Homo sapiens: one gene and its partners. The protein of the gene in region 3 purifies or fractionates together with the protein of the main gene of each other region. This does not show direct contact. Each region holds a gene or a part of one and is shown on either strand. Other genes may lie near its edges. The genes, in order: CHD5, BPTF and PWWP2A.

Region 1 (3,655 bases), on a different chromosome or scaffold from region 3:
ATGCAGACGCACAGACATGCATGTGCACCCAACACTCACCTGTCACCCTCCACACAGGCCCCCACCGCCCGGCCTGGGACCCCCAGAGAGTCCTAAGCGGGGAAAGGGGGACAGGAGGGCTCCTACCCTGGGTCTCTGGGGCTCCCATGGCCCACACTATGGGTGCAGCTTTAGCCCCACTGTCCCCACTCCTCGGGGGCACCGGGGCTCTGGTGGCTGAGCGGACGCCCCTCCCACCCTTGCATCCCACGGGGCCAATGTGCACCAGTGGAAGGTGTTTGCACCAGTGGAAGGTGGGGGCTGCACCACTGTCTTGGTGCCTCTCTGCACCAGGGCCTCCCTCAAGGGTGGCCAGGTGCTTGGGGCTCCCACACAGGGAGGGCACCCTGTGGAGGGCTAGGGCACACAGGGGAGCCAGCAGCAAGGGCCGCCCCAGGTGGGTTTATGTGGGTGAGGCCCCAAGCAGCCAGGGGCAGGGGCTGGGCTGCTCCGGCTGACCCCACCCCATTCCTCTGATCACTAGTGTGGAAAGGCGGGGATTTTTCAAACCAGCTGAAAACGTGCACGGGGACCCCCTCGGAGTCGTCCTGCAGAGCAGGTGTCGGTGGGGCAGTGGCAGGGCTGGCGGGGAGCTGTCTGTGGTGGGGCAGCCGATGGGATGCCAGTCCACAACTGCCCGCTCTGCCACCGGGCCTCCGCCTCCCCCGCCACCGCAGGAGACCGCCTGGGCAGAGCCACCCCCACACCCTGGCGGTGCCCAGCACTGCTTATGTAACGGGCTCTGGCTGATGCAATCTCGAGGGGGGGCCTCTCCCTCCTGCTTCCTCCCAGCTGTCCCCTTCCGGCAGGGTGGTCCCAGACTTAGGAAACCCAGCCCAGCACATGGTCACTGACTGGTGGCCTGACCAACAGAACGGATGAGGGTATGCACAGGTGGCTGCCAGAAGTTCTGGAAGGAAGTCTGGGATCTGCCCGTGGGTAAGGGGAGGACAAAGGGGGACCCCTGCTCTGGCCCTAACCCACGCCCAGAACAGGCCTTCGAGGACAAGGCCCCAGACCCTCTGCCCATGGACAGACCCCAGCTCCGTTCCCAGAAGACCTCACAGCCCAGGGCCTCTGCCTGGTGAAACCCACCTCTGAGAAGGCTCTGGAACTGGCACACGGAGACGGGGACTCAGCCCTGCCTAACCCTGTCTCTGATGGGCCCTTCCTCTCCCCAGATGGCTTCTGGTGGGTGGCCCTGAGGTCACCACACGCCTGATTCTCTATGACACTGCCCCCCCCAACACCTCACACGCTCCCGTCTTCAGCCAAGCCCCAGCCCCTTTCTGCCCTTGGACACTCTCTGCTCCCGCAGCAGGTCCTGAGCTTTCTAAAACCAGATCTGGGGGTCACCATACAAGCAACTGCACGGTCAGCCTTTCCCCAAGCCCAGCCTGTGCCCTTGAGCCCACCAGTCCCTCCTCCCTATGGCTCCATCTGGTGGGGACAGAGCAGAGGCCCAGAGGGTTCCAAGACGCAGAGCATGCAGCCAGTGTTAAGGTGGCATCCTGCCCGTCCCGGGTGAGGGGCTCCAGGGAGGAGCAACCTCACCTCAGAACTCCTTGTCCTGCCAGCTCCTGGCCCCTCGTGGCTGCCCCACCACCCTCCTGGCCCACCTGGCAGTGCCCTCATGCACCAGCCCTAACCCTCCAGGGCCTGAGGCTCCACGGATCCAAGCCTGCTCTAATTAAGACCCATTACCCTGTGATCACCCACCTCCTGGGGGTGGAGGCGGGGTGGGGCTCAAGTCGACCAGAGGAAGGAGAGGCACCTTCTGCTGCTTTCTCCAGAGCTCCCTCAGCCCCTCTCTAGCTCCCAGTATGCGCCAGCTCAGCCCTGTGGGACCCCCAGGCTGGCCTAGGCTGAGCCACTGCAGGCTGCGGCCAGGCCGATGAGGTGGGCCCTTCTCAGGGTAGCGCATTGCAATAGCAGCAGTCGTGATAACTGCATACCACCTGCCAGGCTCGTGCCAGGCCCAAAGTACCTAGGACTGATTAATTTGTATCAGTTCAACACAGCAACTCAGAGAGGGGTACTATTCTTTCTGGTTTGGGGCTTTATTTATTTATTTATTTATTTTAGAGACAGAGTCGCTGGCTGGAGTGCAGTGTTATGATCATGGCTCACTGCAGGCCTCGACCTCCTGGGCTCGAGCGACCCTCCCACCTCAGCCTCCTGAGCAGCTGGGACAACACGCACAACCACCACACCTGGCTCAGGGTTCTATTCTTATCCCCATCTGCAGATTGGGAAACTGAGGCTCAAAGGACCTCATTATTTACCTACATCTCAGTCCTACAGCTGGCAGTGGTGAAGCTGCCACTGTTTGAACACAGGCAGTGGGCGCCCACCCCCTTGCGAAGTCTCTCCCCCAGCACCCTCCCACTGAAACAGCCCACGCTGTGTAAACCGGCTCGGTGGATGCCCTGGGGACACTGAGGTGACTCAGGCTGGTCTGTGGTCTGGCAGGTCACAGGTCCCTCAAGGGGGTCAAGGCTGGTTCACCACACTAGTCCCCCTGCACACAGCCCCACAGCTCTGCCAGACCCAGGCTCCAGCCCCTCACTCCTCTGGGGAGGGGCAGCAGCAGAGCAAGGACGCAGCCGCCAGGGCACTTGGCAAACACAAGGTGATCAAAACAAGGGGAAGGCGCGTGACTGTGGAGCGAAAGTTAGGTCATCTGATTCTGGGTGGTTGAAGGATTTGCAGGGGCCAAGCCAGGAGCTGGGACGAGAACACCATCACCAGGTTGCAAAGGCCGGCAAACCTGCCAAGGACAGGGACCCCACTCAATGTCCACCACTCTCTCCAGGACCTGGGGAGAGGCGTTATTTCTTTTTTTTTTTTTTTAGACGGACTCTCGCTCTGTCACCCAGGCTGGAGTGCAGTGGCGCGATCTCGGCTCACTGCAAGCTCCGCCTCCCAGGTTCACGCCATTCTCCTGCCTCAGCCTCCCAAGTAGCTGGGACTACAGGTGTCCGCCACCACACCCGGCTAATTTTTTGTATTTTTAGTAGAGCCAGGGTTTCACCATGTTAGCCAGGATGGTCTCGATCTCCTGACCTCGTGATCCACCCGCCTCGGCCTCCCAAAGTGCTGGGATTACAGGCATGAGCCACCGCGCCCGGCCGAGAGGGGCTATTTCTGTTCCCCACCTGGACTCCCCAACCAGCAACAAGCAGAGAACAAGGCCACCAGGAGGTCAGGAGGAGGGAGCAACAGGGGCAGCAGAGGCTTCAAGCTACCCCTCCTGGAGGTGATACCAGCAAGTCCCCTCCCCACTGAGCCTCTCTCTTCATCTGTGAAATGGGCCTAATGTGGCAGCCTTTCCCCCAGGGCTATGGGGAGAAGTAAAAACTGTGAATGCAAAGGACCCACACGATGCCTGCAGGGGCTCAGCAATGGCAGGCAGAGCCCAGCGAGACCCAGGAGGGTCAGGGCGGCAGTGGTGAAGGGCAGAGGGCAGCGGTCTCTAGTTTGGCCACTGCTGGGCCAGAGGTTCTCAGGGCCACCCTAGACGCTGGCCAAGGAGTTCTCAGGCTGCCGTTAGTCCTCGAACCTCCCCCCATGAGACAGGGCTTATGCTGGCAAAGGGGGGCAGTACACCGCCCAA
Region 2 (3,655 bases), on a different chromosome or scaffold from region 3:
CTTGACAAGATAATGGTGTCGTTGACTTTGCTTTTTTCTTGTCCGTTGGACAAAATTGGCCAAGAATATAATTGGACTGTTATGACCAATAAAAACGAAGTTTAGGTCAAGTCTTGTCAGGATAGCCTGACTAAAAACATCTGGCTCCTTAATTTAAAATAGTTCAGACAACCAGATTCTTGCTGTGTTTTATGTTAGGTTAACACGCTGAACTTTAAGAAGCTGTAGACTGCAGTTTGTTGTTATGAGACCTACAGAATATAGAAAAAAGGGAACAATTAAGCACCCTTCATTTTTGAAAACAATGATGCTTTATGCGGATGCCAAGGTCAGTCAGTCTGGGAGAAGCAGCCATGTTCTTTCATTCACCCTTGGCAAGCGAATAGAAAAGAACGATTAAGAAAATTTTAACCTATAATATTAAAACTTTTCACTGTACACTAAACATAATAGCTCACTGGAAAAAGCCAATATTTAAATATATATATATATATATATATATATATATATATATATATTTGTCTAATAAAGATTACAACATTTTCAGCCAACTGGACAAATAGAGGCATTTACAGAAGCATTACCATTGTGGTGAAAGGTGTGTGTGTGTGTGTGTGTGTGTGTGTGTGTGTGTGTTTATTTACATTGATGAGGGGAATATAAAGGGAAAAATTACGCTAAAACAAAAGAAAAAGCAATCTTAAAATCACATTTTTCTATTAAAGTCCAGAAAGTCTCCCTTCTAGTTTCACAGTTTTATTCACAACTTTCATTAGTAAACCAAATTACTGTACAGTTACCAGGACTAAGTCAAAGGACTTTATATTGAAATAGCAGATAAATACAGTATTCCAAGAGTTTACAATTTTTAAATACATTGTTCAACATGGCTGCTAGAGTAAATTTTTTACCACGATACATCTTTAACATTAAAAAATTATATTAACTAATCTGACTTTTTGGGGGGCAATTTTGAATTAGGTAATCACGAGGTACAATAAAACAAAGAGTGACCCCAACATCCAGTTCTGATTCCAGTTAAAAATTCAGACTAAAGATATCACAATCTGTAAGAAAAGAAAGAATATGGATGGTATAAATGATGAATTATAACAAAGTGCAGTAATGAAAACAATGTGCAAACAATGCTGGAGATCATAAAATGGGAAAATATGGCAAAGGAAATTCTGAAAATCCATAAATAAATCAATTTTCAATAACTGGCTAGTTATGTTTCATTCTGCCTTAAATCTGGAAAACAATAGAAATTCCCTAAAAAGGCAACAGCAAGTTGCCCTTATACAACTCTTTACATTGTAATTTTGTTTTGTTTTGTTTTGTTTTGAAACAAGGTCTCACTCTGTAGCACAGTCTGGAGTGCAGTGGCGCAATCACAGCTCACTGCAGCCTCAACCTCCAGGGCTCAGGTGATCCTCCTACCTCAGCCTCCTGGGTAGCTGGGACTACAGGCACATGCCACCATGCCCGGCTAATTTTTTGTATTTTCTGTAGGGATGGGGTTTCCCCATGTTGCCCAGGCTGGTCTCAAACTCCTGGGCTCAAGCGAACTGCCTGCTTTGGCTTCTCAAAGTGTTGGTATCACAGGCATGCACCATTGCACACAGCCTAATTTGTTTATTTAAGCAGAATTGAGCAAACTTCTCAATTCAGCTCCCATGTGCTTTAATGAAAATTATGTCAACTTGAGTATATTTAAAAACTACATAAAATAACCACGTGGCAAGAAGACATCCTAAGTGGCCCCTTCACTGTGCAGGCCCAGCCTAGGCCTCCATCTCTCCTTTACCAATTCCCTTTGTCTTGCCTACAGTCCCCAGGACCTCCAGGCAATTTCCTCTCCTTCATCAGCAGTTGCCAGCAGTCATCCTGTGGGCTCTGCCAGCAAGCTGGCAGCAGGGTAGGATTCACACTCCTTGGCTTCTACCTCACAGTTACCACCAAAGGCCTTCCCAATTTAAAAAAGCAATTTTAGAAACTGAACCAGAGGAATAACCACGATGTACAAATGAAAAAGCATAGAGGGGCTTATAATGAGAAGTTGTGCTCCTCTGTCCTACCTTAACTCCATCTGAAATCCAGGCTCCCTATGATCAATCCCTTTGACTTTTCAGTTCTCTGGGTAGATGTATTTTTCTTTTTGAGATGGAGCCTCAGTGTTGCCCAGGCTGGAGTGCAGTGGCAGGATCTCAGCTCACTGCAACCTCCTCCTCCCAGGTTCAAATGATTCTCCTGCCTCAGCCTCCCCAGTAGCTGGGATTACAGGTGCCTGCCCCCAGGCCCAGCTAATTTTTGTATTTTTAGTAGAGACGAGGTTTTACCATGTTGGCCAGGCTGGTCTTGAACCCCTGACCTCAAGTGATTCACCCACCTCAGCCTCCCACAGTGTTAGGATTACAGGCATAAGCCACCACACCCGGCCTGGGTAGGTTTTTTTTTGTTTGTTTGTTTTCAGACGGAGTCTCACTCTTGTTGCCCAGGCTAGAGTGTAGTGGTGCGATCTGCAACCTCCGCCTCCAAGGTTCAAGTGATTCTCCTGTCTCAGCCTCCCAAGTAGCTGAGACTTATAAGCGTGCACCACCACACCTAGCTAATTTTTTTATTTTAGTGTAGACGGGGTTTCACGATGTTGGCCAGGCTGGTCTTGAACTCCTGACCTTAGGTGATCCGCCCGCCTCGGCCTTCCAAAGGGCTGGGATTACAGGCATGAGCCACTGCGCCCGGCCAGGGTAATTTCTTATACTGCTATTTCTTGTTTTATCAACTTTTGTTTAAGCCCTGCTATGGCAAGGAGAACCAAGCTCACTTAACCATTTCCCAACCTCCCTTTTTTGAGTCCAAGTTTTATTTCCCTATAATTTAAAAATTATATCATTCTATGCTTTGTCTATAGGGTGATTCTAAAAGTCGAAAACCAATGTCATTATTTTTATTATCTTTGAGACGGAGTTTTGCTCTTGTGGCCCAGGCTGGAGTGCAGTGGCGCGGTCTTGGTGCACTGCAACCTCCGTCTCCCAGGTTCAAGTGATTCTGTCTCAGCCTCCTGAGTAGCTGGGATTACAGGCATGTGCAACCACACCTGGCTAATTTTTGTACTTTTAGTAGAGACAGGGTTTCATCATGTTGGCCAGGCTGGTCTCGACTCCTGATCTCAGATGATCCACGTGCCTTGGCCTTCCAAAGTGTTGGTATTACAGATGTAAACCACCGTGCCCGGCCCAATGTCATTATTTACGTTACTACGAAAATGTAAATATTTTTCTCTGTAGCACCTAGTCCTTTGCTAACAGGGCCTTTTTTTTTTTTTTTTTTTTTGAGACAGGGTCTTGTTGTGTCTTCCAGGCTGGAGTGCAGTGGCATGAAGATGGCTCACTGCAGCGTCTACCTCATGGGCTCAATCCTCCCACCTCAGCCTCTGAAGCAGCTGGGACCACAGGTGTACATCACCATGCCTGGCTAATTTTTGTGTTTTGTAAAGATGGGGTTTCCTCATGTTGCCCAGGCTGGTCTAGAATTCCTGGGCTCAAGCATCCTCTTGCCTCAGCCTCTCAATGTGTTGGGATTACAGGCATGAGCCACCGTGCCCAGCTAACAGGGTACACTTACACAACTTTCTGTTTTTAGTGGCGTTTCTAAT
Region 3 (2,461 bases):
TGCTAAATTTTAAATTTCTAAAAGTATTGAAATTAGATATCCAAAAGTTAAGACACAAAGTATGAAAGCAACTTTAAAAATCTTGAGATAAACTTGCCTCCACAGCCAATCAGATATATTTCTCACTACTAATACAAAGCTAAAAATGGAAAATAAGAAATCAAATCTTAGGGACAGATGGACCATGTAGAAAAATAGTAAGCTAAGTTACTAGCCCCAAAAGCAGTGATACATGAGGCAGAAAACCAAACAGAAGAGACCGGTTGTAATTACCCGAATGTAAAAAAAGGAAGCATGTGATGAAATATTAAGACTAAAAATTAAAATTCACACATTTATGAGAAATTGGCAGGAAGGGGATATCAAATCTAAAAGCATTATCAAACCTCTATACTACAAAATCTTATTTTGAGAATATACTGATTCATCTCTCATTATTTGAAGTTTTCTTATCTCAGATAATATATTCCCTGATAGGGCAAATAGCAAAATAAAAGTTTGATTTTTCATCTCTTCTAAACACTCTTACAAAGAATAATTTTCTACCATCTTGAAATTTTTCAAAGCTTTTTGAGAAACACACACAAATAATTTGGATTTAGTTGATTTTATTTACAGCTTTTTTTTGGTTTTTTTTTTTTTTTTTACATTTCAGAGCATTACACAATTACATTTTCTCATTTTCTGACCTGCAAACAGATACCTTAAACGGAAATTATTTTGTTTTAATTATCAAATTAGGTACATCCAAAATGCAACAATTACACATATGACAATTAATTCACAAAGTATAATTTTACTGGGACATATCCTAAGAATTTAGGAACAGCCAGTCAGGAGAAATCTGACCAAATTTAGCAATCACTATTTACAAATCCAAAATCAAACCTATCTAAACTCCCAAACCAGAAGCTTGAAAGTATTTATTAAATCCCCACTGGACGAAAGACAGTGATGACTAACACCTATCCAGTCTTGACAGTTTTAATCCCAAACACTGGGCTATTTCCCCAGTCTGTAACTGAATTGCAACCATCTGTTTGTCAAACACCTAACCATCTAACTTTTACACCATTATGCGCATAGAAAGGCTAAGTGTTCATTATTTAAAAAACAAGTAGTCATTAAATATCCACTATTCCCCCAGCTCACCAAGCCCTTATTGCAATCCCAAATATGCAATCTGTGTCACACAGTGACAGGCTGTATTTCATATATATATATGTGTATATATACATATATATGTGTGTATATATACATACACGGATATATATATATACACACACACACACGTATATATATGTATATATACAGTATTAGGTACAAATGGCAATTAACAGTCCCTACAAAAATTCAATTTCAGTTGAGGCTATGGCTCCTATGCCTTGGGATGGTTTCGAACTTCAAAACTGAAAAATACTGCTAAAATCTCACTTCCTTAACACAAAATTTGATTATATGTTCAGTTTAAGCTCTCAGTCTAAAAATGGCTATAAGGTAAGTATTAAAAAGCCAGCCAACTGAGTGCAACTTCTCTCTCCAATCTGGCCACGCTATTTTGTAGAAATTATTCCTAACTAGACTAGAAAATCTGTGGTGACTTCCAATGGTCTTGCCTACCTTACTGCCCATGTTCACGTTTCAAACTGTGTCAACAAAGCCCGCACTTCGGGGGTCAGCTGCTTGGCAGCCTTAGCTGCCTCTGTGATAGCCTTGCGATACAGGCCCTTTCTCTTCTTATTAAAGCGTGACTGGAAGTTTTCTAAAAAGGGGGAGAGTTGTGAAAGAGCAAGGAAAGATGTTGTTGGAGACCCAAACCATGAAATACGGGCCTCCTGTCGGACTAAAAGGCCGTTATCTTTCCGGCTCACAGTTATAGTAAGAATACGGGCTGGCCACCAAGGGAAGCCATATATCTTGGCCCAAACAATGTCCCCTACACATATGGTCCTGCCATCTGGTGTGACGCATTTAGAGACGTTTTTGGAAAAGACTTTCATTTTCAAGGAATTACTGAGCTTTTTCTCTTCCTTTGAAGAGGAGGAAGTGGAGGAGGTGGAAGGTGCATGCATACTGCCTGGAGGAAAATCAAAGCTTTCAGAAGAACTACACTCAGAGTTGGAAGATTTCAAATCATCTGTGCTATCAATGCTACACACTGAAGCACTGGAAGAGTCAGATTTCTTTTGATTTAGGGTCATATAAACAGAGATATTGTTTTTGCTGCCCTTTTTGCCCAATGTCTGTGGTTCATCCTGATCACCAGGCACATGCACTTCATTTGTGTCCTGAACCTCACTGCTGGCCTCTTCAGGGCCTTTTGAGGGACTCTGATTTTCTGAAGGGGCCTCACCTGCTGAGCGGGTAGAGGTGCAGCGAGACTGGGGCTTGGGTGCCATCTTGCCACTCCGCATTTTCTCAAGTCCTGTCTTCAGAGAAGAGTCATTTTCTTCATTCCTGT

The links.
Region 1: the proteins of PWWP2A (region 3) and CHD5 purify together in Homo sapiens (affinity purification with mass spectrometry, with the first as the bait; one large-scale study listed by BioGRID). This does not show direct contact.
Region 2: the proteins of PWWP2A (region 3) and BPTF purify together in Homo sapiens (affinity purification with mass spectrometry, with the first as the bait; one large-scale study listed by BioGRID). This does not show direct contact.

Annotation. Positions count from the first base shown.
Region 1 is NC_000001.11:6,170,232-6,173,886, forward strand, and holds part of CHD5 (chromodomain-helicase-DNA-binding protein 5), read right to left. Parts: intron 1-3,655. UniProt on the Homo sapiens protein: ATP-dependent chromatin-remodeling factor that binds DNA through histones and regulates gene transcription. May specifically recognize and bind trimethylated 'Lys-27' (H3K27me3) and non-methylated 'Lys-4' of histone H3.
Region 2 is NC_000017.11:67,978,848-67,982,502, reverse strand, and holds part of BPTF (nucleosome-remodeling factor subunit BPTF), read right to left. Parts: intron 1,068-3,655; coding exon of another isoform or gene 1,061-1,067; exon of another isoform or gene 252-1,060; coding exon 215-251; 3' UTR 1-214. UniProt on the Homo sapiens protein: Regulatory subunit of the ATP-dependent NURF-1 and NURF-5 ISWI chromatin remodeling complexes, which form ordered nucleosome arrays on chromatin and facilitate access to DNA during DNA-templated processes such as DNA replication, transcription, and repair.
Region 3 is NC_000005.10:160,090,748-160,093,208, forward strand, and holds the end of PWWP2A (PWWP domain-containing protein 2A), read right to left. Parts: coding exon 1,635-2,461; 3' UTR 592-1,634; downstream 1-591. UniProt on the Homo sapiens protein: Chromatin-binding protein that acts as an adapter between distinct nucleosome components (H3K36me3 or H2A.Z) and chromatin-modifying complexes, contributing to the regulation of the levels of histone acetylation at actively transcribed genes.